7 linked regions of the Homo sapiens genome follow. The protein of the gene in region 7 interacts with the protein of the main gene of each other region in a pairwise test. Each region holds a gene or a part of one and is shown on either strand. Other genes may lie near its edges.

Evidence for each region.
Region 1: the proteins of TSHZ3 (region 7) and CEP70 interact in binary tests that used the Homo sapiens proteins (3 or more experiments, as listed by UniProt).
Region 2: the proteins of TSHZ3 (region 7) and TAX1BP1 interact in binary tests that used the Homo sapiens proteins (3 or more experiments, as listed by UniProt).
Region 3: the proteins of TSHZ3 (region 7) and RINT1 interact in binary tests that used the Homo sapiens proteins (3 or more experiments, as listed by UniProt).
Region 4: the proteins of TSHZ3 (region 7) and CEP63 interact in binary tests that used the Homo sapiens proteins (3 or more experiments, as listed by UniProt).
Region 5: the proteins of TSHZ3 (region 7) and SPAG5 interact in binary tests that used the Homo sapiens proteins (3 or more experiments, as listed by UniProt).
Region 6: the proteins of TSHZ3 (region 7) and APEX2 interact in binary tests that used the Homo sapiens proteins (3 or more experiments, as listed by UniProt).

The regions. Positions count from the first base shown.
Region 1 is NC_000003.12:138,573,761-138,577,260, reverse strand, and holds part of CEP70 (centrosomal protein of 70 kDa), read left to right. Parts: intron 1-3,500.
Region 2 is NC_000007.14:27,827,162-27,830,267, reverse strand, and holds the end of TAX1BP1 (tax1-binding protein 1), read right to left. Parts: intron 2,531-3,106; coding exon 2,448-2,530; intron 1,641-2,447; coding exon 1,439-1,640; 3' UTR 501-1,438; downstream 1-500.
Region 3 is NC_000007.14:105,545,701-105,549,200, forward strand, and holds part of RINT1 (RAD50-interacting protein 1), read left to right. Parts: intron 1-1,209; coding exon 1,210-1,383; intron 1,384-1,483; coding exon 1,484-1,633; intron 1,634-2,848; exon of another isoform or gene 2,849-2,853; coding exon 2,854-3,010; intron 3,011-3,128; exon of another isoform or gene 3,129-3,267; intron 3,268-3,500. UniProt on the Homo sapiens protein: Involved in regulation of membrane traffic between the Golgi and the endoplasmic reticulum (ER); the function is proposed to depend on its association in the NRZ complex which is believed to play a role in SNARE assembly at the ER.
Region 4 is NC_000003.12:134,548,557-134,552,056, forward strand, and holds part of CEP63 (centrosomal protein of 63 kDa), read left to right. Parts: intron 1-505; coding exon 506-620; intron 621-1,506; coding exon 1,507-1,704; intron 1,705-3,369; coding exon 3,370-3,456; intron 3,457-3,500. UniProt on the Homo sapiens protein: Required for normal spindle assembly.
Region 5 is NC_000017.11:28,589,026-28,592,525, reverse strand, and holds part of SPAG5 (sperm-associated antigen 5), read left to right. Parts: coding exon 1-544; intron 545-653; coding exon 654-828; intron 829-3,500. UniProt on the Homo sapiens protein: Essential component of the mitotic spindle required for normal chromosome segregation and progression into anaphase. Required for chromosome alignment, normal timing of sister chromatid segregation, and maintenance of spindle pole architecture.
Region 6 is NC_000023.11:55,003,363-55,006,459, forward strand, and holds part of APEX2 (DNA-(apurinic or apyrimidinic site) endonuclease 2), read left to right. Parts: intron 1-436; coding exon 437-506; intron 507-3,097. UniProt on the Homo sapiens protein: Functions as a weak apurinic/apyrimidinic (AP) endodeoxyribonuclease in the DNA base excision repair (BER) pathway of DNA lesions induced by oxidative and alkylating agents.
Region 7 is NC_000019.10:31,279,937-31,283,436, reverse strand, and holds part of TSHZ3 (teashirt homolog 3), read left to right. Parts: intron 1-3,500. UniProt on the Homo sapiens protein: Transcriptional regulator involved in developmental processes. Functions in association with APBB1, SET and HDAC factors as a transcriptional repressor, that inhibits the expression of CASP4.

The sequences.
Region 1 (3,500 bases), on a different chromosome or scaffold from region 7:
CCATTAACTCGTCGTTTACATTAGGTACTTCTCCTAATGCTATCCCTCCCCCATCCCCCCACCCCACGACAGGCCCTGGTGTGTGATGTTCCCCTTCCTGTGTCCAAGTGTTCTCATTGTTCAGTTCCCACCTATGAGTGAGAACATGCAGTGTTTGGTTTTCTATCCTTGCGATAGTTTGCTCAGAATGATGGTTTCCAGCTTTATCCATGTCCCTACAAAGGACATGAACTCATTCTTTTTAATGGCTGCATAGTATTCCATGGTGTATATGTGCCACATTTTCTTAATCCAGTCTATCATTGATGGACATTTGGGTTGGTTCCAAGATTCTGGTATGTTGTGTCTTTGTTCTCATTGGTTTCAAAGAACATCTTTATTTCTGCCTTCATTTTGTTATTTACACAGTAGTCATTCAGGAGCAGGTTGTTCAGTTTCCATGTAGTTGTGCGGTTTTGAGTGAGTTTCTTAATCCTGAGTTCTAATTTGACTGCACTGTGGTCTGAGAGACAGTTTGTTGTGATTTCTGTTGTTTTACATTTGCTGAGGAGTGCTTTACTTCCAACTAAGTGGTCAATTTTTGAATAAGTGTGATGTGGTGCTGAGAAGAATGTATATTCTATTGATTTGGGGTGGAGAGTTCTGTAGATGTCTATTAGGTCTGCTTGGTGCAGAGCTGAGTTCAAGTCCTGGATATCCTTGTTAACCTTCTGTCTTGTTGATCTGTCTCATATTGACAGTAGGGTGTTAAAGTCTCCTATTATTATTGTGTGGGAGTCTAAGTCTCTTTGTAGGTCTCTAAGGACTTGCTTTATGAATCTGGGTGCTCCTGTATTGGGTGCGTGTATATTTAGGATAGTTAGCTCTTCTTGTTGAATTGATCCCTTTACCATTATGTAATGGTCTTCTTTATCTCTTTTGATCTTTGCTGGTTTAAAGTCTGTTTTATCAGAGACTAGGATTGCAACCCCTGCTTTTTTTTGCTTTCCATTTGCTTGGTAGATCTTCCTCCATCCCTTTATTTTGAGCCTATGTGTGTCTCTGCACATGAGATGGGTCTCCTGAATACAGCACACTGATGGGTCTTGACTCTTTATCCGATTTGCCAGTCTGTGTCTTTTAATTGGGGCATTTAGCCCATTTACATTTAAGGTTAATATTGTTATGTGTGAATCTGATCCTGTCATTATGATGTTAGTTGGTTATTTTGCCCATTAGTTGATGCAATTTCTTCCTAGCATTGATGGTCTTTACAATTTGGCATGTTTTTGCAGTGGCTGGTACTGGTTGTTCCTTTCCATGTTTAGTGCTTCCTTCAGGAGCTCTTGTAAGGCAGGCCTGGTGGTGACACAATCTCTTTGCATTTGCTTGTCTGTAAAGGATTTTATTTCTCCTTCATTTATGAAGCTTAGTTTGGCTGGATATGAAATTCTGGACTGAAAATTCTTTTCTTTAAGAATGTTGAATATTGGCCCCCACTCTCTTCTGGCTTGTAGGGTTTCGGCCAAGAGATCTGCTGTTAGTCTGATGGGCTTCCCTTTGTGGGTAACCCGAGCTTTCTCTCTGGCTGCCCTTAACATTTTTTCCTTCATTTCAACCTTGGTGAATCTGACACTTATGTGTCCTAGGGTTGCTCTTCTCGAGGAGTATCTTTGTGGTGTTCTCTGTATTTCCTGAATTTGAATGTTGGCCTGTCTTGCTAGGTTGGGGAAGTTCTCCTGGATAATATCCTGAGGAGTGTTTTCCAGCTTGGTTCCATTCCCCCCATCACTTTTGGGTACACCAAACAGACATAGATTTGGTCTTTTCACATAGTCCCATATTTCTTGGAGGCTTTGTTCATTCCTTTTTACTTTTTTCTCTAAACTTCTCTTCTCGCTTCATTTCATTAATTTGATCTTCAATCACTGATACCCTTTCTGCCACTTGATCAAATCAGCTACTGAAGCTTGTGCATGTGTCACATAGTTCTCGTGCCATGGTTTTCAGCTCCATCCGGTCATTTAAGGTCTTCTTTACACTGTTTATTCTAGTAAGCTATTCATCTAATCTTTTTTCAAGGTTTTTAGCTTCCTTGTGATGGGTTTGAACATCCTCCTTTAGCTTGGAGAAGTTTGTTATTACCGACCTTCTGAAGCCTACTTCTGTCAACTCGTCAAAGTCATTCTCCATCCAGCTTTGTTCTGTTGCTAGTGAGGAGCTGCGATCCTTTGGAGGAGAAGAGGCGCTTTGATTTTTGGAATTTTCAGCTTTTCTGCTCTGGTTTCTCCCCATCTTTGTAGTTTTATCTTCCTTTGGTCTTTGATGATGGTGACCTACAGATAGGGTTTTGGTGTGGATGTCCTTTTTGTTAATGTTGATGCTTTTCCTTTCTGTTTGTTAGTTTTCCTTCTAACAGTTAGGTCCCTCAGCTGCAGGTCTGTGGGAGTTTGCTGGAGGTCCACTCCAGACCCTGTTTGCCTGGGTATCGCCAGCAGAGGCTGCAGAACAGCAAATATTGCTGCCTGATCTTTCCTCTGAAATCTTCATCTCAGAGGGGCACCTGGCTGTATGAGGTGTCAGTCGGGCCCTACTGGGAGGTGTCTCCCAGTTAGGCTACACGGAGGTCAGGGACCCACTTGAGTAGGCAGTCTGTCCGTTCTCAGAGCTCAAACACCATGCTGGGAGAACCACTGCTGTCTTCAGAGCTGTCAGACAGGGACATTTAAGTCTGCAGAAGTTTCTGCTGCCTTTTGTTCAGCTATGCCCTGCCCCCAGAGGTGGAGTCTACAGAGGCAGGCAGGCCTCTTTGAGCTGCGGTGGGCTCTACCCAGTTCAAGCTTTCCTGCCGCTTTGTTTACCTACTCAAGCCTCAGCAATGGCAGATGCCCCTCCCTCAGCCAGGCTGCCACCTTGCAGTTCAATCTTGGACTGCTGCGCTAGCAGTGAGCAAGGCTCCATGGGCATGGGACCCACTGAGCCAGGCATGGGATATAATCTCCTGGTGTGCCACTTGCTGAGACCATTGGAAAAGCGCAGTGTTTGGGTAGCAGTGTCTGGATTTTCCTGGTACAGTCTGTCACGGCTTCCTTTGGCTAGGAATGGGTAATCTCCCTACTCTTGCACTTCCTGGGTGAGGCAATGCCCCACCCTGCTTCGGCTCGCCCTTTGTGGGCTGCACCCACTGTCCAACCAGTCCCAACGAGATGAACCAGGTACCTCAGTTGGAAACGCAGAAATCACCTGTCTTCTGCATCAGTCACACTGGGAGCTGCAGACTGAAGCCTTTCATATTTGGCCATCTTGGATGCCCTTGGGTTTATTTTTAAAAATGCATCATTATAGTCTTGTTTTTCCCCTTTACTAGTTAGAAAATTATATACTTCTGTTCAGTTCTTCAGTGGATGTCCTAGAAATTCTCAAGCATCCTTAACTTATACAAAAGCCCAGTGTTAACAGATACCTTTACCAGTGTCCACCTCCATTGTAAACAAACTTAGAACACTGTTACTCCATTTACC
Region 2 (3,106 bases), on a different chromosome or scaffold from region 7:
CTCCAACAAAAATGCTCCCATTGTTGAACATATTTTACCTAAGTATATAACCTATCTGGAAGCTGAAAGTCTCCAAAGCTATTGCTTCCTAGGACTGCTGTGTCCTAACAGCTGGCATATGAATGCCTCATACTGGTTTGCCCTAGACTCAAAAAACTTTTTAAAGGATTCTAACAATATACAAACTCTGCTTCCACAAACAAATACAAGTGACGACATGATATGCTGCAGTTCACATATAGCAACTCAAAATGCCACCAAGTCTAAATATTAGGTTAACATCTTCAATAGCTAGTTTGCTCAGAACAAATGTAAACTATTTTGATGATAACTACAAAAGCGGCAAAATCAAAAGTTGGTGCTTTAAATTATTCACACGCACATTATAAAAGGGAAAGGGAATACAATTCAGAAGTATTTTAAAGGCCCAAACCAAAAAAAGATGTTCAAGATGCTAGATTAATGAAAAACTTTCACAAATAAATTTGACAACAATGAAATTACAGATCTTGAAAAATGTGTCCTCTTTCTTTAATGTTAGTGACAGTTCTATACAGCACAGACATAACTGAAGAAACACATTACTTTGATTTGGGTTTATGTATTGTACTTTTAATCACTTACTGAGAATATTTCAAATTTATATTCTCATCAGGAAAATGTAAAAAAGATACTGATATATATTCTATGATTTTTATGCCACAAACACCCCTGTTATGAGATCATTTAATAGGAAAACAATTATACTGACATCTCTTGTTCCATTTTCCCATTAGATATATACATACAACTTCAAGATAGTTTAAAAATAATCATTCAGGTTATTCTAAAATTTTGCCATAAAATTAGCAAAGTATGCCTTCTGTTAATTGCTAAAACCAATATTTCACATATAAAAGCATGTGATCTCATTCTACATGCAGCTCCATTTCTGAAAATTAAAAACCTATCATTTCATGGGCTAAATTATAGAACTTTCTATATTCGAAGAACTACTTCATAAGACTGTTATGACAAATGCTTTTTATTACATAATATTTAGTAGTCATGCTCAATCAACAAGGTCAACAGAAACTTGTGAATATTCTGCTAAATAATCTAGCACACTAATACATACACGTTTTTCAGTGCAGTAACATTGAAATAATCCTTGTATCCTTTATTCAGACAGTTCTGCAAACTAGGGAATAAATAAAGATACGAACACACAAGAACTTTTTTTTAAAGCAGGTAAGATTAACAGAGATTAAAATTTATTGATAAGCCAAAGACTGACCCTGATCCTAGTAACACCAAACTCAAAGTAGCTCCTGGTCAGAAAGTGCAGTAAAGGGTGCATGAAAGCATCCGCTCTATGGTCTCCTCAGTGGTCTATTTTAGGTGTGGTTTTTTTTTTTTTTTTTACTGCTAAACTATATTAACTCATAATAAAAAGTAACTAGTCAAAATTTAGAACATTCTGATCAAAATGGGTCTGCACATGCCTTTCAAACACCTGCTGGTCATAGTCAGGAGGGAACTGCTCGCTGCACATCGGGCACACCTTCCAGTGACTTTCAACATGTTCTTCAAATTTGCTCTGATCATAGTTAGGAGGAAACATTAACTCACAGAGGGGACACTTCTTGTGAACATCAAAGCTTAAAGAGAAAAATGAAAGAATTACATGTTTCTAATAAATGTAGAACAACAACTTGTCCATATATGACAAGGTTCCATTTATCTAGTTAGCTGATATTCATACTAAACAACCTACCTTAAAAGTCTTTACTCCAGAAACATTTCTCTGCTTCTAAATGCTTGCTGTAGACAATTGTGTAACCCATTTATAGAGCCTCTAAATTCAATTTTACAATTAGATTAACAAAACCGTTTTTCCCCCTTAAAACCTCCCAAATCCAATCACAATTACGTGAAATTAGTACCAAGAATTCTTCCACGTTTAACAGAAAATGCCTTTTGTAAGACTGTAAGGATAAATACAACTCATAACTTCCCACCAGTGCATTTGGTTTAATAGCAAAGTTTTTATGGCACTGGTTCTCAAATGCTTGTATGCATCAGAATCAGTCGGAGGACATGTTTTTGTTTTTGGCCAAAAATACTGTATTTTTAACCAGCAAGATCATTGGTGCATTATTATACAACATTAGGTGTTTTTTGCAAAACTAGTTCCCATCCCCAAACAACAGACAATACATGCATTTGAATGACATTTTAGGAACAGTAAATATTCTTTTAAATACTGCAAGTTAAAAATGTTTTCTGACAAAACTCCCTAAATCGGAGGACATGTTAAAACACATATTGCTGGGCCTACGCCTGGTGTTTCTGGTTCAGCTAGGCCAGGCCCTACACATGTGCATTTCTAATGAGTTCCCAAGGACCACCTTTGAGAACCACTGGCCGATATAACCCAAATTCTACAAAGTAAAGAAGAAAACTACCTGGAATCAAAGCAAAAGCCTGTCCCATGCCCACGTAAATGTTGACTTGGAGGATCAGGAGCAGTAGGCACATTCTCATCTTCCTAGGGGAAAAATAATTTTGGAACTTTTAAGAAAAGTAAAACCAAATATAAATTCCTTAATTCAATCAAGCACATACTGACAGTATAAAAGAAGATTACACTTCAGGAAATTTTCTCTCTGCTATCATTTAATTAGACTTTCAAATAAACATGTTTGAAACTTTGCAGAGTATTTCACTATAAACTAACACTGTGGTGTTCTTGAAATAAAAAGCAGTATTCAGAGGAATAGAGACATACCATTTACACATACCATTTACCATACCTGTATGTGTAAATGAAGCTGAGAACAGTAGACCTTTTCAAACCTATATACGTAGGTAACTTTTACTGACTTTATCATTCTGCAGACTGGGTGACCAGTTTTTTGCTTTTTTTTTTTTTGAGATGGAGTCATCACTCTGTCACCCAGGCTGGAGTGCAGTGGCGCGATCTCGGCTGACTGCAACCCCTGCCTCCTGGGTTCAAGCAATTCTTATGCCTCAGCCTCCTGAGTAGCTGGGATTATAGGTGTGCACCACCATGCCCAGCTAATTTTTGTATTTTTTAGTAGAGACAGGGTTTCACCATGTTAGC
Region 3 (3,500 bases), on a different chromosome or scaffold from region 7:
TTTTTAGTAGAGACGGGAAGGGTTTCACCAAGTTGGCCAGGCTGGTCTCGAACTCCTGACCTCCGGTGATCCACCCATGTTGGCCTCCCAAAGAGGCCACCACGCCTGGCCTCTTTTTCTTTGAGACGGAGTCTCACTCTGTTGCCAGGCTAGAGTGCAGTGGCATGATCTTGGCTCACTGCAACCTCCGCCTCCCGGGTTCAAGCAGTTCTCCTGCCTCAGCCTCCCGAGTAGCTGGGATTACAGGTGCCCACCACCATGCCTGGCTAGTTTTTATATTTTTAGTAGAGATGGGGGATGGGGAAGGGGGGGCGGGGGGCGTTTCACCAAGTTGGCCAGGCTGGTCTCAAACTCCTGACCTCCGGAGATCCACCCATGTTGGCCTCCCAAAGTGCTGGGATTACAGGGTTGAGCCACCAAGCCCCGCCTGGAATTATATTTCTTTGAAGTGGGAAATCAAGTTCAGCTGGGCAAAGTATGTAACAATTGAAGACCATCATACTTGACTTTACCAGATACTACCACATTATTCCCTTGGATTAAGATACTGAAGACTTTGTAAAAGGCAGATTTATCAGAAATGAGTGGTGCCCAAAGGAATATGACACAAAACAGGTCTGTCAGGAGGAGTAGGAAGGGAAAGGTCCCGGGAGAGGTCTTGAACATAGGCTGCAGGCTGCTGCTCTTAGAAGAATGCAGAAGTAGAGGACTCTAGGCTCCCAGAGAGGCCTTGGTAAAAGGCCTCAGGGTGGTGCTTTGTTAAAAAACAAAGGCTACCTCAGGGTGGTGCTTCATTCTTCCTTGGATGTAACTTTATATAAAACATGAAGAAGAAGCACTTTTTCCGAATTTGAAATTATTCTGAGCAATCCGTTCTTTAAATTTGCTTTCGGCTGGGCACGGTGACTCACGCCTCTAATCCCAGCACTTTGGGAGGCCGAGGCGGTCGGATCACTTGAGGTCAGGAGTTCAAGACCAGCTTGGCCAACATGGTGAAACCCTGTCTCTACTAAAAATACAAAAAATTTAGCCAGGCATGGGGGCGCATGCCTGTAATCCCAGCTACTGTGGAGGCTGAGGCGGGAGAATCACTTGAACCTGGGACACAGAATTTGCATTGAGCCAAATCATGCCACTGCACTCCAACCTGGGCAACAGAGTGAGACTCTGTCTCAAAAGAAAAAAAAATTTGCTTTACTTTGTTTACAGTGATAACATTCAGCAATATCTGATGACCAATAATGTACCGGAGGCAGCCTCCACTCTAGTGTCTATGGCAGAACTTGACATTAAACTTCAGGAATCATCTTGTACTCATCTTCTTGGTTTCATGAGAGCCACAGTTAAATTCTGGCATAAAATTCTCAAGGACAAGCTTACAAGGTAGGGAATTTACCCATATTTTGTGGTAATTGCTTTCCGATGGGTATTTGGTGATCATTTGGTGATGTACTGAAATGTATGTGTTACTTTTCCATTGCAGTGATTTTGAGGAAATTTTAGCACAGCTTCATTGGCCATTCATCGCACCCCCTCAATCACAAACTGTTGGCTTAAGTCGACCTGCCAGTGCCCCGGAGATATACAGTTACCTGGAGACACTGTTTTGTCAGCTTTTGAAACTACAAACCTCGTATCTTTGTTGCAGCTGAAAACTTACTAAAATTTCTTTTTTCTAGAATGGGTTTGTGGCTAGAGAGTAAAACTTTTTCAAAGTGGCCAAGAAAGCCAAATAAGAATCCTGTGTTTGGACTTGGTCTGTAAATGTCCACTGAGTGGTGGACTGTACTCTTGCAAAGTGAATTGCTTGTAGGTGTGAGGGCTGTAAGGAAGAGTTCCGGGATACATGACTGATCCAAGTTCATAGCACAAAAAGGTCTCTTGGGGCAACAGAACAAATGGGCAATTGGGAGGAAACCTTTAGTGTCATAGCGTGAATTTAATCAAATGATACTTGAATTTTTTTTGTTACTATTTTAGGAAAGATTTATAGATTAATTCTAATACCATTTTTGTGCTTTTTTTTTTTTTTTTTTGAGATGGAGTTTCGCTCTTGTTGCCCAGGCTGGAATGAAGTGGCGTGATCTCATGATCTCGGCTCACCACAGCCTCCACCTCCCGGGTTCAAGCGATTCTCCTGCCTCAGCCTCCCGAGTAGCTGGGATTACAGGCGTGCACCACTATGCCCAGCTAATTTTGTATTTTTAGTAGAGACGGGGTTTTTCCATGTTGGTCAGGCTGGCCTCGAACTCCTGACCTCAGGTGATCCACCCGCCTCAGCTTCCCAAAGTGCTGGGATTACAGGTGAGAGCCACTGCACCTGGCTCATTTTTGTGCTTTTTTTAAAGACATGGTCTCACTTTGTCACCCAGGCTGAAGTGCAGTGGTGCAGTCATGGCTCACTGCAGCCTTGACCACCCAGGCTCAGTTGATTCTCCCACCTCTTCTTCCTGTGTAGCTGGGACTACAGGCACGTGCCACCATGCCCCGCTAATTTTTGTTGTTTTTTGTAGAGATAGGGTTTTGCCGTATTGCCTAGGCACGTCTCAAATTCCTGTGAAGTGGCCCAAGTGATTAGCCTGCTTCAGCCTCCCAAAGTGCTGGGATTACAGGCATGATTCACTATCATCATGCCTGGCTTTTTGTGCATTTTAACTGAATGTATATTCAATATAAAGAATTAACTGTATGTTTATTCAATATAAAATTAGGTTACATATTATTTGCATCATAATTAACTCTACTGAGTATCTGATACATTTGTTGGAAAAATTTATTGTGTGTGTATACATACATATGTGTGTGTATATTAGGTATGCTTTTGATTCTTTTTCCTTGACTTGATTATGTCAGAGATGAATTACTTACTGAGCCAAAGCAACTCCCAGAAAAATACTCTCTTCCTGCCTCCCCTTCTGTCATCCTGCCCATCCAGGTTATGCTGACTCCTCTTCAGAAGAGGTTCAGGTATCACTTCAGAGGGAACCGGCAGACTAATGTGTTAAGCAAGGTGTGTTTTGCCAGCTCTTGTCCTTGGTTTTTATTGGTAACAAATGTTAGAGTTTCTATACCTTTGCTGGTTTAAGTTAAAATCTGACTCTCTTCACATTTCTGTTTTTTTTCTAAAGGGCTACATTCCTGTTTTGTTACTGCTGTTCATACATATAATTGAGGACTTGTGTTCATATACTGTAGGAAAAATGGTATTTCCGCTCTTGGGCATCAGATATTGCTGAGTTATCATTGCAAAACAAAGCAAAGCAAATAGTAAGCACTTGGTATTTCTTTTCTTTTTTTTTTTTTGTGAGTTGGAGTCTCGCTCTGTCACCCAGGCTGGAGTGCAGTGGCACAATCTCTGCTCACTGCAACCTCCACCTCCCAGGTTCAAGCGATTCTCCTGCCTCAGCCTCCCAAGTAGCTGGGACTACAGGCACATGTCACCACACTGGACTAATTTTTGTAATTTTAGTAGAGATGGGTTTCACCATATTGGTCAGGCT
Region 4 (3,500 bases), on a different chromosome or scaffold from region 7:
TATGTAAAAGATAAAATTGCTTTTAACATGAACTGTTAACCTTTAGGCAAACAACAAGAGAAATATCATTTTACACTTTTTAGGTTATCTTTAAGTAATACATTTTTTGTTTTTACATTTATTTCTGGTTTTGGAAACCAGTAAGTATTTTCTTACTTTTATCTACATGTTAAATACACAAACATGCATACACACACATATTTTCTGCTTTATTCCTTTTGGAATACTTGGAGTACTTGAGATAGTCTTTGTTATTATTGAAGTATATGTGTACTCTTCCGTTTGACTAAAATTAAGTTTATTATTTTTGACGTTGGGACAACAGTTTACATTTTTATCACAGTTTTTTTATTGATTGGCTTTTTAGTAATATTTTAAATGACTGAGGTGATGTTTAAGATATTGGCTGGATATTTTTTGGATATCAAGAATGTAAATTAGATAGTCCAATTTATAGGTTTCAGGATTTTGGTTTTAAGTATGGGATCTTATTTTTGTCATACAGTTTGGAATCTGTGAGTGCAACGTGTAAACAGCTGAGCCAAGAACTAATGGAAAAATATGAAGAACTGAAGAGGATGGAAGCACATAACAATGAATACAAAGCAGAGATTAAGAAGGTAAAAATCTGCATACCTAGGATTGCAAAATTGTATGTGTTTATGGACAAAGCTGTGGATTGGGAGATTATAGGGGTTATTTTTAATGAGAAAAAAATGTAGTTCAAGGGACCACTTGATATTTAGGAGTGGAAGAGTTTGTGGAATGTGCATAGGGAAAGTGCCTTCTTTCTTTGGCATCGCCCCTGATGCCCAATAAATATTTTTAAGATAATTGAAGGCTGTCCCCTTTGAACTCAAAAACTTTATTTTAAACATGTTTTGATGAAAAGTTTTCTAAAAGACATACACTCTGTTGCTTGCAAAAAAATATGAACTGTCACTTAATATTTTCTTATTGCCTAAAGATAGTATTTATGTATTGTCTCCTGTGCTATGATGTAGTTAGTATCCTTGTCAGCTATTGAGGTATGCAGAGCTGTTTGTGTCTATATGAATGGGCCCTAACTGTCCTATTTGTTTGATTTGTATTTTTTGTTACTTCTTTAAGATTACTTCTAGTTCCTTACTTCCTCTTGTTCTATTTGTTATCCTGTGGACTAAGATACCATATGAGCAAAACTTTTAGATTCACAACTAAAAAAAAGAATGAAGGTCACAAGTACTCTCCTCTAAATTGTGTGCATGGACCTTGATTCTGGTCCTCAGCACTTGAATAACCCATCTCTCCCTGTTTTGAGGTATAATAAATGATTGTAGGTATAACCACCTGACCTTCAGTACAGATATGCAACTTGGTAAATTGCTAATTTTTCTGCAGATTTAATTTAAGAGAAATTTAATGTCTTGAGATAAGGTGAACTTTTATTTTATTAGCTAGTAACATATTATTCTATCTAAATGCTTTCTCTTAACTTTTGGTGCTTTCTTTTCTGCTTCTTTATAGTTGAAAGAACAGATTTTACAGGGTGAACAAAGTTACAGTTCTGCACTAGAAGGAATGAAGATGGAAATCTCCCATCTAACTCAGGAGTTACATCAGCGAGATATCACTATTGCTTCCACCAAAGGTTCTTCCTCAGACATGGAAAAGCGACTCAGAGCAGAGATGCAAAAGGCAGAAGACAAAGCAGTAGAGCATAAGGTGAAGCCTGAACAAAACCTTTTTTAAATTTGAAATTTGTTTTAAAGATGGAGTTGATTAAAGACATAATTTTCATAATATTTAATTCAGTGAATTTTTATTAGATACCTGCTTTGAGCTGAGAGTATGCTGGCTAGCAAAGAGTTTAGTGAGCATGGTGGGGAGGTGAGAGTAGACACAGACAAGTAAAGTGACTGTATCAGTGGTGTATGGTGAGAGTCACTAGAGATCACAAGCAGCCTGAATCTAGACCACTCGCTGCAAAGGCCTTCCAGAAGGTGTGATAGCAAAGCTAAGTTAGGAGCAAGCTGGGTGATGGGGAGGAAAAGTGTTTCAGGCACAGGAAAATACAGAGGTCTCTAAGAGAGAGTAGAAACACGCTTGCTGTGGTTGAAACTAGAGTACAAGTGGGATGAGTGGAAGGTATGAGACTGGAAAGCAGGGACTGGCTGCTGAAGGGCTACGTTAGCCACGTAAAGGAGTTATACTGTGACCTTGAGGTCAGTAGGGAATGGCTGCAAGCAGGAGTAAAATTCAGTGGTCCTTAAATGGAGAATAAGCAGGGAGACAGAGCACCCAGATGCTGTTACAGTGGTAAGATGGTGGCCTGAGCAGTGGGCAAGGGAGGCAGAGGGAAATGGATGAATTCTGGAGATACTGGGCTGGTAAAAATGACTGGGCATTGTATTTGATTGGCAGGGAAGGTGAGGTAGGCAGAGTTAAGGAATGGTGCTCCACAGGATTTAAACTTAGGCAACTGATGGAAAGTGATGCTTTTTAATGAAATAGAGAAAAGACAGGGAGCAAGTTTGGTGAAGGATGATGAATTTGTGTGAAAAGTACACAGACTGGGGAAACTGGTGGAGAGGACATTGGTTTGACACATTTGTTTGGAATAAAGGCTGGAATTTTGTATGGGTAATAGTCAATTCCACAGAAGGCCTGGAGTTGAAGATTAAAATCAGGATTAGGCATTTAGCTGTGGCTGTCCTTTCTTCATGGTGACATTTGAAACCCCCTGAGAGACTTAATGATTATAGTGAGAAAGCATAGCGTAAGAAGAGAAGTGACTCAAACCAAACTTAGGATACTTCTCATTTAGTGTAAAAAAGATGTTGGAATGAAGCTTAAAAAAAGGAGCAGTGAGGAGGGAAATCAGATAGTTTTTGCCAAGCCAAGGAAAGAAGGAATATTTTCAAATGGGAATGGTCAAGCACAAAAGCTGAGGGGAATGAGAACTGAATATAAGTTGTTATTTTGTGAATAAAGTACAATTCCATGTGACGTTGCAGGTAGAAGCCAAATTGGAGGAGGCCAGCACAGGAGAATGGGTAGGGATTTAAGGGGTTCAGTGGATTGAAACTTTGCTGCTTTGTCACCTGATTTATCCTATTAGAATGATATCTTCATCCCATTCATGTTCATTCACCTTAATAACATCTTAAAAATCTTTTTAGAAAGTCCATATATATATATATATATATATATATATATACACACACACACGTACATATATATATGTATATATATATATAAATATGTATATGTATATATATATAAATGAAGAATATGACTTAGCCTAATGAAAATTCCATGTGGAAAAATTTTGTAAGATGCATGTGATTTACATGTTATATTTATTTTTTTCTGTTTTCCCCTTTTCAGGAGATTTTGGATCAGCTGGAGTCACTCAAATTAGAAAATCGTCATCTTTCTGAAATGGTGATGAAATTGGAATTGGGTTTACATGAGGTACATAAATAGAAACTTAAGTTTTTCTACTATCCAAGCCTTCA
Region 5 (3,500 bases), on a different chromosome or scaffold from region 7:
TCTTGCCTTCCTCTGTTCTCTGGCTTTCCCCTTCAACTGCCTTGGCAGCAGATTTCCGTGTCAATCATGTGGACCCAGAGGAGGAAATTGTAGAGCATGGAGCTATGGAGGAAAGAGAAATGAGGTTTCCCACACATCCTAAGGAGTCTGAAACAGAAGATCAAGCACTTGTCTCAAGTGTGGAAGATATTCTGTCCACATGCCTGACACCAAATCTAGTAGAAATGGAATCCCAAGAAGCTCCAGGCCCAGCAGTAGAAGATGTTGGTAGGATTCTTGGCTCTGATACAGAGTCTTGGATGTCCCCACTGGCCTGGCTGGAAAAAGGTGTAAATACCTCCGTCATGCTGGAAAATCTCCGCCAAAGCTTATCCCTTCCCTCGATGCTTCGGGATGCTGCAATTGGCACTACCCCTTTCTCTACTTGCTCGGTGGGGACTTGGTTTACTCCTTCAGCACCACAGGAAAAGAGTACAAACACATCCCAGACAGGCCTGGTTGGCACCAAGCACAGTACTTCTGAGACAGAGCAGCTCCTGTGTGGGTAAGCGCCCCTATGTCCTTGCACCTCGTGAGTTCCATTACCCTGGACCTTCCCCTCCCATCCCTTCCCCTCCTTTTCTTTTCGTCATGTTCTTCTCTTTCTGCTGCAGCCGGCCTCCAGATCTGACTGCCTTGTCTCGACATGACTTGGAAGATAACCTGCTGAGCTCTCTTGTCATTCTGGAGGTTCTCTCCCGCCAGCTTCGGGACTGGAAGAGCCAGCTGGCTGTCCCTCACCCAGAAACCCAGGACAGTAGCACACAGACTGACACATCTCACAGTGGGGTAAGAAGGTTCCTCTCAAAGCTTGAGGGATCCCAGTGGGGATCCTTGGAATTTAAGCTGAGAAGCTGCCAGAGGGCAAAGGGGACTCCTATCACAGGCTTATACTTAGAACATTTGCAAAAGCTGAGAATCTGGGCAGTCACAATGGCTGATGCCTGTAATCCCACTGCTTTGGGAGGCCAAGGTGGGAGGACTGCTTGAGGCCAGGCATTTGAAACCAGCTTGGGCAACACAGCGAGATCCCATCCCTACAAAAGATTTTTAAAAAATCAGCTGGATATGGTTTTGCATGCCTCACTACTCAGGAGGCTGAGGCAGGAGGATCATTTGAGCCCAGGAGGCTAAGGCTGCAGTGAGCTATGATCATGGGCAAGACAGTGAAACCCTGTCTCTTAAAACAAAAAAGCTGAGGATCTGGAAAATCCCCTTAAAGCTGTGGGTAGTCACTCTACCCCTGGGGTACATCAGAACTTTCCAAAGGAGTGCAAGCAAGGAAACTTTTAAAGGAATTGGTTTTTAGATCATCATCTTCCACAAGTATTCTTTTTCTTCGTTTTTTGCATTGGTAGACTATATTTAATATTTTAAGAAAAATTATGAATAAGCCTAAAACATTTTTTAAAATAATTTTTAATTTTTGTGGTTACAGAGTTAGGTAAATATATTCATGGAGTCCATGAGATGTTTTGATATAGGCATGTGATGGTCAATAATCACATCATGGAAAATGGAAAATGGAGTATCTGTATCTGTCCCCTCAAGCATTTATCCTTTGTGTTACAAGCAATCCAATTATACTTTTAGTTTTTTTTTTTTTTTTTTTTTTTTTGAGACGGAGTCTCACTCTGTCACCCAGGCTGGAGTGCAATGGCCTGGTCTCGGCTCACTGCAACCTCTGCCTCCCAGGTTCAAGCGATTCTCCTGCCTCAGCCTCCTGAGTAGCTGGGACTACAAGCGCATGCCACCCCACCCGGCTAATTTTTGTATTTTTAGTAGAGACAGGGTTTCACTATGTTGGCCAGGCTGGTCTCGAACTCCTGCCCTCATGATCCACCTGCCTCAGCCTCCCAAAGTGCTGGGATTACAGGCGTGAGCCACTGCGCCTGGCCCCTGTTGTTTATGTGAAGAAGATTTCTCAGTGTTTACATCTGTCAGAATGGAAAGGAGTCAGCTGGCATAGTGGCTCACCCCTGTAATCTCAGTACTTTGGGAGGGTGAGGTGGGAGGATCGCTTGAGCTCAGGAGTTCAAGACCAGCCTGAGAAGTATGGTGAAACCTCATCTCTACAAAAAAATACAAAAATTAGCTGGGTGTGGTGGTGTGTGCCTGTAGTCCCAGCTACTTGGAAGGCTGAGGTGGAGGATCACTTGAGGCTAGGAGTTCAAGGCTGCAGTGAACTGAGATCTTGACACTGCACTCCAGCCTGGGCAACAGAGCCAGACCCTGCCTCAAAAAACAGAGTCACGAATTGTTGCTGAACTATTTCTTATTGCTGGAATTATAGTAATCCACAGATATACGAACTAATAAGGGGAAGGAATCTCCATCGATTTCATTAATAGGTGATTCCCAATTAAATTTTGCCGAGCATGTTTATTTTATTAGAAATTATATTACAGTGACTAATATACAACTGATTAAAAGATTTCTCTATCCTAAAGAAAGCTTTTTCACTTTAAAGCCTTCCGGTCAAAGGAATTTAAAGGAAATTTTAATTTAAATTTAGATGAACTTTCATTGTTGTTGCAGAGATGATGGTTAATAACAGATTTTATTTTTATTTTTTGAGATAGTTTCTTGGTCTGTCACCCAGGCTAGAGTACCATGTTGCGATCAGGGCTCACTGAAGCCTCAGCTTCCTTGGCTCAGGTGATCCTCCCACCTCAGCCTCCTGGGTAGCTAGGACTGTAGGTGTATGCCACCACACCTACCTAATTTTTTTGTATTTTTAGTAGAGATGGGGTTTTGCTATGTTGGCCAGGCTGTTCTCAAACCCCTGGGCTCAAGTGATCTGCTAGCCTTTGCCTCCCAAAGCACTGGGATTACAGGTGTGAGCCACTGTGCCCAGCTAATAACATACTTTAAAGCATAAAAATATATTACATTAGGCTGAAATTCTGAGAAAAATAAAAAATATATGTTCAAAGAGAAAAAGGGATGACATAATAAAATTTCTGACTGCTAAGAAGAGCTTTTTCTTGTATTTTTAAAAGATAGCAACTAGGTATCTCATCATTTTGGTGTATGTAGTATTTATGCCACTGGATATATTTAAGAGTAATCTAATAATTTTATTTTAGGCTGGGCATGGTGGCTCATACCTGTAATCCCAACACTTTGGGAGGCCGAGGCGGGAGGATCACCTGAGGTCAGGAGTTCAAGACCAGCCTGGCCAACATGGCGAAACCCCGTCTTTACTAAAAATACAAAAATTAGCTGGGTGTGGTGGAGGGCACCTGTAATTCCAGCTACTTGGGAGGCTGAGGCATGAGAATCGCTTGAACCCGGGAGGCAGAGGTTGCAGTGAGCCAAGATCGCGCCACTGCACTCCAGCCTGGAGGATAGAGTAAGACTCTGTCTCAAAAAAAAAAAAAATTATTTTAAATTGTCAATATTGGTAATATGCTGGACATTACAGCCTTTGCAACAATTTAAACTTAAGGGTACTTAGT
Region 6 (3,097 bases), on a different chromosome or scaffold from region 7:
CAAATGAATATATGAATCTCTACCCTACACAATAGTTTTAAGGGTAAAATGAGATGAGAATGGTAAAGTGCGTGGGAGCAAAGGAAAGTCTTGTTCCAGCGGAGGACAGGAAAGTGAGGGTGGGTTAGAGCAATCAAGGGGAGGTGGTATCTGAGCTCAGCTTTGAAGGACAAGAAAAATGCCCATTGGCTCCTGATTAGTGAGGCAGTCATGTCAAACATGGAACACTGTCACCTTTGGAGATCAGAATTGGGTTGGTCAGATATGAAAGGCAGCAAGTTTGTGGTAAGATTGGAGAGGTAGGCTGTTATGAGTTGCTGTTGGCTAGGAAGCCTCAATATGGGAGAGGGCCTGTCTGAGCTCTTGGGCCCAGGAAAAAGTATATGGGCCAGGACTGCTGCACCCCTTTCTAACAATCCCACATTGTGTTTTTCAGCCATGTGATCATTCTGGGTGACCTGAATACAGCCCACCGCCCCATTGACCACTGGGATGCAGTCAACCTGGTAAGGCTCCCTCTAGGTGCCTGGCCCCACTCCTGACTGATTCTGTTTGTCCAGCCAACCAACCCTGAGTTTTTGGCCCAGGGACAGCTTCCTTTATGGGAAAGCGGAGCTTGGCTTGCAATACTATTCTTATAGTACTGAGGATTGGTCATTCATTCAATAGACAATACTGACTCTGCCCATGGCCTGGCCCTGAGCCACATACTGAGGACTCAGGAGTCAGATCCAGCCCTTGGCTCCTAGGAGCTCTCCAGCATGGTGGTGGGCTACAGACACATGGCTAGCCAATTATAGGATGGTATTCTCAGGGCAGAGGCACAGATGGCATCCCAGAAAGCTACAGGAGCTCAGAGATGGGATTCCTAGGTGAGCTCGGACATCAGGACAGGCAGCTGAAAATGGCTGAATCTTAACAGATGAGTAGAACAGAGCTTTGAAGTAGAAAGCATTCTAGCATGGGCAAAGGTTTCAAGGTGAGAATTTGCATTGTGTGCATGGGGAACCACAAGTCCCTTTCTTCTTAGTGACACAGGAAGGGAGGTGAGTGGCAGAAGGTGGGGCTGGAGAGTTGTTGGGGGTCAGATTTCAAGGACTGTGAATTCCACATTGCCTTGGTCATTTCCTTAATACACTGTATTTCTTGTTTATGAACTTTCAGTACCTCCCTGTTACCTCTGTGATGCAGAGAAAACATGGAGACCTAGCATTCAAGGCTCTCCTTGGTCTGTGACCTGTCTCTTATTTCCACCTTCAGTGTCCCTACACATTTTGTCCTCTCTAGACAGGTTGTCTCCTGTCGGCCCGTTGTAAAAGTTATTCTCATTCTGGCTTTTCTCACTGTGCCCTGAATTGGTGGACATGACCCCCTCCCTGTCTTTTTGTTATATGAACCTCTTATCTCTAAGTTCCCCTAGGCCCATGGTTTTCAGCCCCTAACTGCATATTAGAACAAAAATATCAATATCTTAGCACTACTCCAGATCAATGAACTCAGAACTCTCGAGTGTGGGGCCAGGGTAGTGGCACGTTCTAAAAGCCCCCAGTGTGACTTTATTGTGCAGCCAGGCTTGAGAACCACTGCCCTAGAATCCACAAGCCAGCTCTCATCTTTTCTTGCCTTATGTCTCACGATGGGGGATCAGTGATTTATGCTGGTACAGTCCTACTCAGCACTGGGCTTGGCTTAGAGAAGGGACCGTGGGAATATTCCTTGATTAATTCACAGAAGAGCTACATAAATGTAGATATGGCTCCCAGCTGGGAAAATGAGCAGAAGTGAGAGAATGAGAGAATGGTGGTGGTGGTGTGGTGGGGAGCGGAGATAATGCTACAAAGTGTGAGCCTTCAGTCCCTCCCTGCCTCATTCCTCTTATGCATTCATTCAGTGTGTTCTTTCAGATTCCTGTGATAGCATCATACATCTTTGTGCCTTTTCTACTTAGTTCAGAGGTATCCTAGATCTCTTATGTATACCTCTTTCATTTTCTCCTCCAGGAAAAGAGAACTAATAGTGCCAGCTCAGATGACTTACACAGTCTTTCCAAAATAGCAGAACATACCCACTTTCTACCAGGCTTGCTCTTTTAGTCTTGTCATTTCTGTAAATGGCACCATCATCCCCTTGATTGCTTCAACTTAAAGCCTGGGAATTGTGCTAGTATTGTCTTTCTTTCTTACTCCACTTCCCACATTCAGTTAGTCAGCAAGTACTGTTGATTCTAGCTACAAATCATCTCATAATTTCATGTTTCTGTCTCCTCTGGCACCCACCCTAGTCCAAGTGACCATCATCTTGCTTGTGTGACTATGGCAGCCATTTCCTGCTGGTATTCTGGTCTCCAGTCTGGTCTTTCCTCAAGTCTTTTGGGTACGCAGCACACTCCCTCCACAGGCCCAGCACAGAGACTGTTCTTAAAGTTAGGAGCACCCTCCACCTAGGTTACTCTTACTCAGCCCCCACACCTCAGCTCCAGATCACTTCTCGAAAGGAAGCCTCCTTGGTCCCCAGGAGTAGATCAGGTTCCTACTTTGTCCCTGGCATCATGCATGGCACATAATAGGTATTCCATGAACATTTCTTGCATTGAATGAGTGGGTGGGTAGGTGGATTGAATGGATGGACTGATGGATGATGGATTGGGGATCAGAGCCTAAGGAAGTATTCAGACCTGGATCCTTGCAGGTCCTCAGCTCAGGAGGTAGGAATGGTCATTGAGGGCTTTGACACACTAGATAAACCAAATAGTGCCAGAGGGTTTAAAGGAAGAAGCTGACAGTCTTCCTAACTCTTAACCCCAGCCCTGCTTCCTAGAGGCAAACACTTTTAACTTCCTGTTTTCCATCCTTTTGAAAAGCAGTTCCAGGAATTGCTTTGAGTAAGCAAACTTTCAGATTTGCCATTGACGGACCAATGCAAGACAAATGCAAGCTCGTGCAGAGGGAAAAACAAGCATGGTCTTTTAAATCAGTAAGGATGAAAATCAGAATCCCAGCTCTGCCAATTCCGGACTGTGTGACCTTGAGCAGTAGTCCTCTTGGGACAACCAAATTTTCTTATTTGCAAAATGCAGCAGTTAGTCTAAGTCCCTTCC
Region 7 (3,500 bases):
AAAGTTCAGTAATCAAGAGTATAAATATTCTCAGAGTAGTGAAATTATTGCAAAGCATGGTGGAAGATGGGAATTTTCCCTTTATTTTTATGTATTTATTTTTGGAGATAGGATTTTGCTTTGTTGCCCAGGCTAGAGTGCAGTGGTGGGTCATGGCTCACTTGCACCCTCCACCTCCGGGTTCAAGTGATTCGCCTGCCTCAGCCTCTGGAGTAACTGGGACTGCAGGCATGTGCCACCATGTCTGGCTAATTTTTTTGTATTTTAGTAGAGATGGGGTTTTACCATGTTGCCGAAGGTGGTCTCAAACTCCTGAGCTCAGGCAGTCTGCCTGCCTTGGCCTCCCAAAGTGCTGGGATTACAGGAATGAGCCACTGCGCCCAGCCCTTCCCTTTATTTTAATGTGGAGGGGAGAACCAGTGGGTAAAAGTCTTAGGCTCCACCTAAGGAAATACTTCTCACCTTCAGATCGGAAAAGAAAATGGTCATTTGAACAGGGAGTGAGGCCCACGTCACAGCCACGAGGGTGTGCGCTTGAAAGAACCCTCAGAAACCATGACATGGTCAGGAGTGGGGTGTGCGGTGAGGCCAGGTCTCTCCAGGACCCAGTTCTGCTTGGCACCAGAGCCTTTTAATTCTCCTCTGAGTTGGATCTTGTTCCACCAGGGAGGTTGAGAGGTTGGCCTTTTCTTTCCATATTAATTTCCTCCTCAGTCATCAGACTGATGACATTCTGACCCTGCTGTGTAGTTTACAAAGCATATCAGAGCGTGTTGTGGGCCAGCCCAGGAGAGGAGCTGGTCATATCATTCATGGTGCATGTGTTGGGGAGGGGTGCTCCGGACGGCCTGGGCTGGTTTGGTGCTTGTGCAGTGGGGGTGGGGAAGGCTCTGGCCATGGGGAGATGCATTGCCCCTGGGTGGAATGTGGGCTGGCAGAGCCCCTGGGTTTCCCTCTCACCTGGTGGCCTTCACCCACAGAGGACTCTTTCATGTCCACTATTGGCTCTGCTGCTTCTGGCTGCTGGTGTCCTCTCGTAGTGGCTGCTGTGGGGCCATTTCTCTCTCAGACTTAATTTCATGGGAGCCACTGTAATAGGAGCAAAATCCCCAGGGTGTGGGGTTTGTATTGCAGACTGTGGCTCCAAGAGGCATCTCCAGGACAGAAGGGGCTTTGATATCTTCACCCATCTACACAGGCCTGGGCATTTCCTTGAGTCTCAGTGGGAGGGACACCAGCCATGGGATTTCCTCCTCTTTCCCCGTTTACAATAAAACCGTACTATGGAAACATCATATATGCATGCACCCGGTGCACTTCTGCAGACAGTGGGCTGTGTCTAGCTAAACCCAGCCTACTCTGCTCCAGCTGTTCCCCGAGAGGATTATAAGAGAGGTTGCAGACCCACCTGGATGCTCTGACCTCAGTCATACTGTGTGCCCCAGCTAGGGTAACAAGCCATCCTTCAGTTTGCATAAGACTGAGTAAATTCCCAGGATGCAAGACATTCAGTGCTGAAACCAGGACAGCTCCAGGCAAATTGGGACACTTGGTTATTCTACCTCGGCTGTTCTTCCTCCAGGCCTGCCACTCCATTGGAGTTTTGAGTCCAGATTTCTAGAATGTGCTGCATGCCGAGGAAGTCTGTCGGGGGGCAGGTGAGGGAGAGTGAGATGTCTTCTTTTCTTTTTCTTTTCCTATTCTTTTCCAACACATGCATTCACAGTCTTCACTGTGGCTAGCACAGGAGCCTCCATTGGCCAGCGCCGTATTTCCCTAAGCATTTGGTCTTGGCCCTAGGAACAGAGCTTTTGCTGTCTTTATTTGTCATCTCAAAGTGCATGGCCTTAAACTTGAGGTTCCCCACAGCACTTCACACTCAGCTGACTGCAGCAGGGCACTCTCTTCTGGTCATTTGTAAAGAACATCCATGGCTCCTGGACAAGACTCTTGCTTAGTAGTTGGCAAATGAGCAGAAGTATCCCCCTCCCTGCAGCTGATGTGTGTACCTGGGGCAGTTCCCATCCAAGTTCACATTACATCAGTGTTGGGATTCCATGTGTCTTGGCTTAGGAATCTTGGCACTCAAAGTAGGGGGCTTAGGAGCAAAAGAATCACACCTGTCCTGGAAGGAATGAGGGGGGCCTATCTGCTTGACTTCAAGGGACTCATTTCACTGTTTTTGTTTGTTTGTTTGTTTATTGTTGTTGTTGGTTTTCTGATGTGAAATGGAACAGGGGCAAATCTTTAAAGCTGGTGGAGTCAATTCCACAAACAAAACTTCCCTTCCTTTCTTAAGAGCTTTTTGTAGAAATCAGCCTTGCAATTAGCACTGCAACGTTCCAACCACTTAACACACTTCCCCACTGGCCTTTTGAAGCAAACAAGTATTTAGAAGCTGACAGGACAAAGTCACTTTATTTCTCCTTTTCCTTTACCTTGAAATTGTTCCTAGCCACAGGGCTGGCCACTCCTCACTGTCCAAAAAACTACCCTGATGCAGTATGCAGTGGCAGATCAGTTTAGTAAGGAATAACCCAAGTCACCGAATGCAAGAGAATGAAAACAAAAACAAAAACAAAAAAAACACCCTGTTGCATTAACGCAAGTATTCTCTGGGCTCTGTGTCTCTGGACGTGCATCTTCCAGAACCTGCAGGCGCGTGGCCTGCCCTCCACCTGCGTGGGAATGCATGCTGGATTTACATCCCAGTTACATCGCTTCCAGAAAGACAGGATCTCTGTTGGATGCCCATGAAGCTTATACTGAGTAAATATTGACAAAGTAGTCTAAAGAGCAAACACTTTGACATTTGTAAGGTCCACTGGAAGGTCTTGTATATATTTATACATCAGGAATGAGCACCGCATACCAATTTTCCTGAACTTGTTGTGACATAATTCTGCATGGAGAGTGTGTGTGCACAGGTGGCTGAGAACGGCTGAGTGTTCACATGGGGGACAGGGCTGGGGGCTGGGTGGTAGCTGGTCAGGGTATTTCCTCTCAACTGGAACGAACCCACACCTATCCCTGCCAGGAAACCTACCTCTAAGCTTTTCTGAGACCTGCTTTTCCAGAAGGAAGAAAGAAAAAAAAAAAGCCACAAAATCTTGTTTTTCCCTTATTACAATGGACGTACTTTTCTTTTTACTTGGTAAAAATTTTATTGATGTTTTTATACTTTATATTTATTAAAGATTGAGCCTCAAAAATGTAATGAGTAAAAAATGCTTGCTTAATTTAAATTGTGAATCTGTCTGTTAAGAAATGCATTAGGGGTAGGAGAAGCATAAGACATATTAATTGACAGACAGGAACTGCTGTCTCTGAGGTTGATACAAGTAATTTATTACTTTAGAAATGAATGCCACCTCCAGAATGTGCTTCATTAATTTCAAATTTAGTTTTAATTTCAAGCTGTTGCCCCTTGAGAAGAATAAGGTGGCAAATTATGTTTGAAGAGCAGATTTTTTTTTTTTTTTGCTCCAAAGAAACACCAC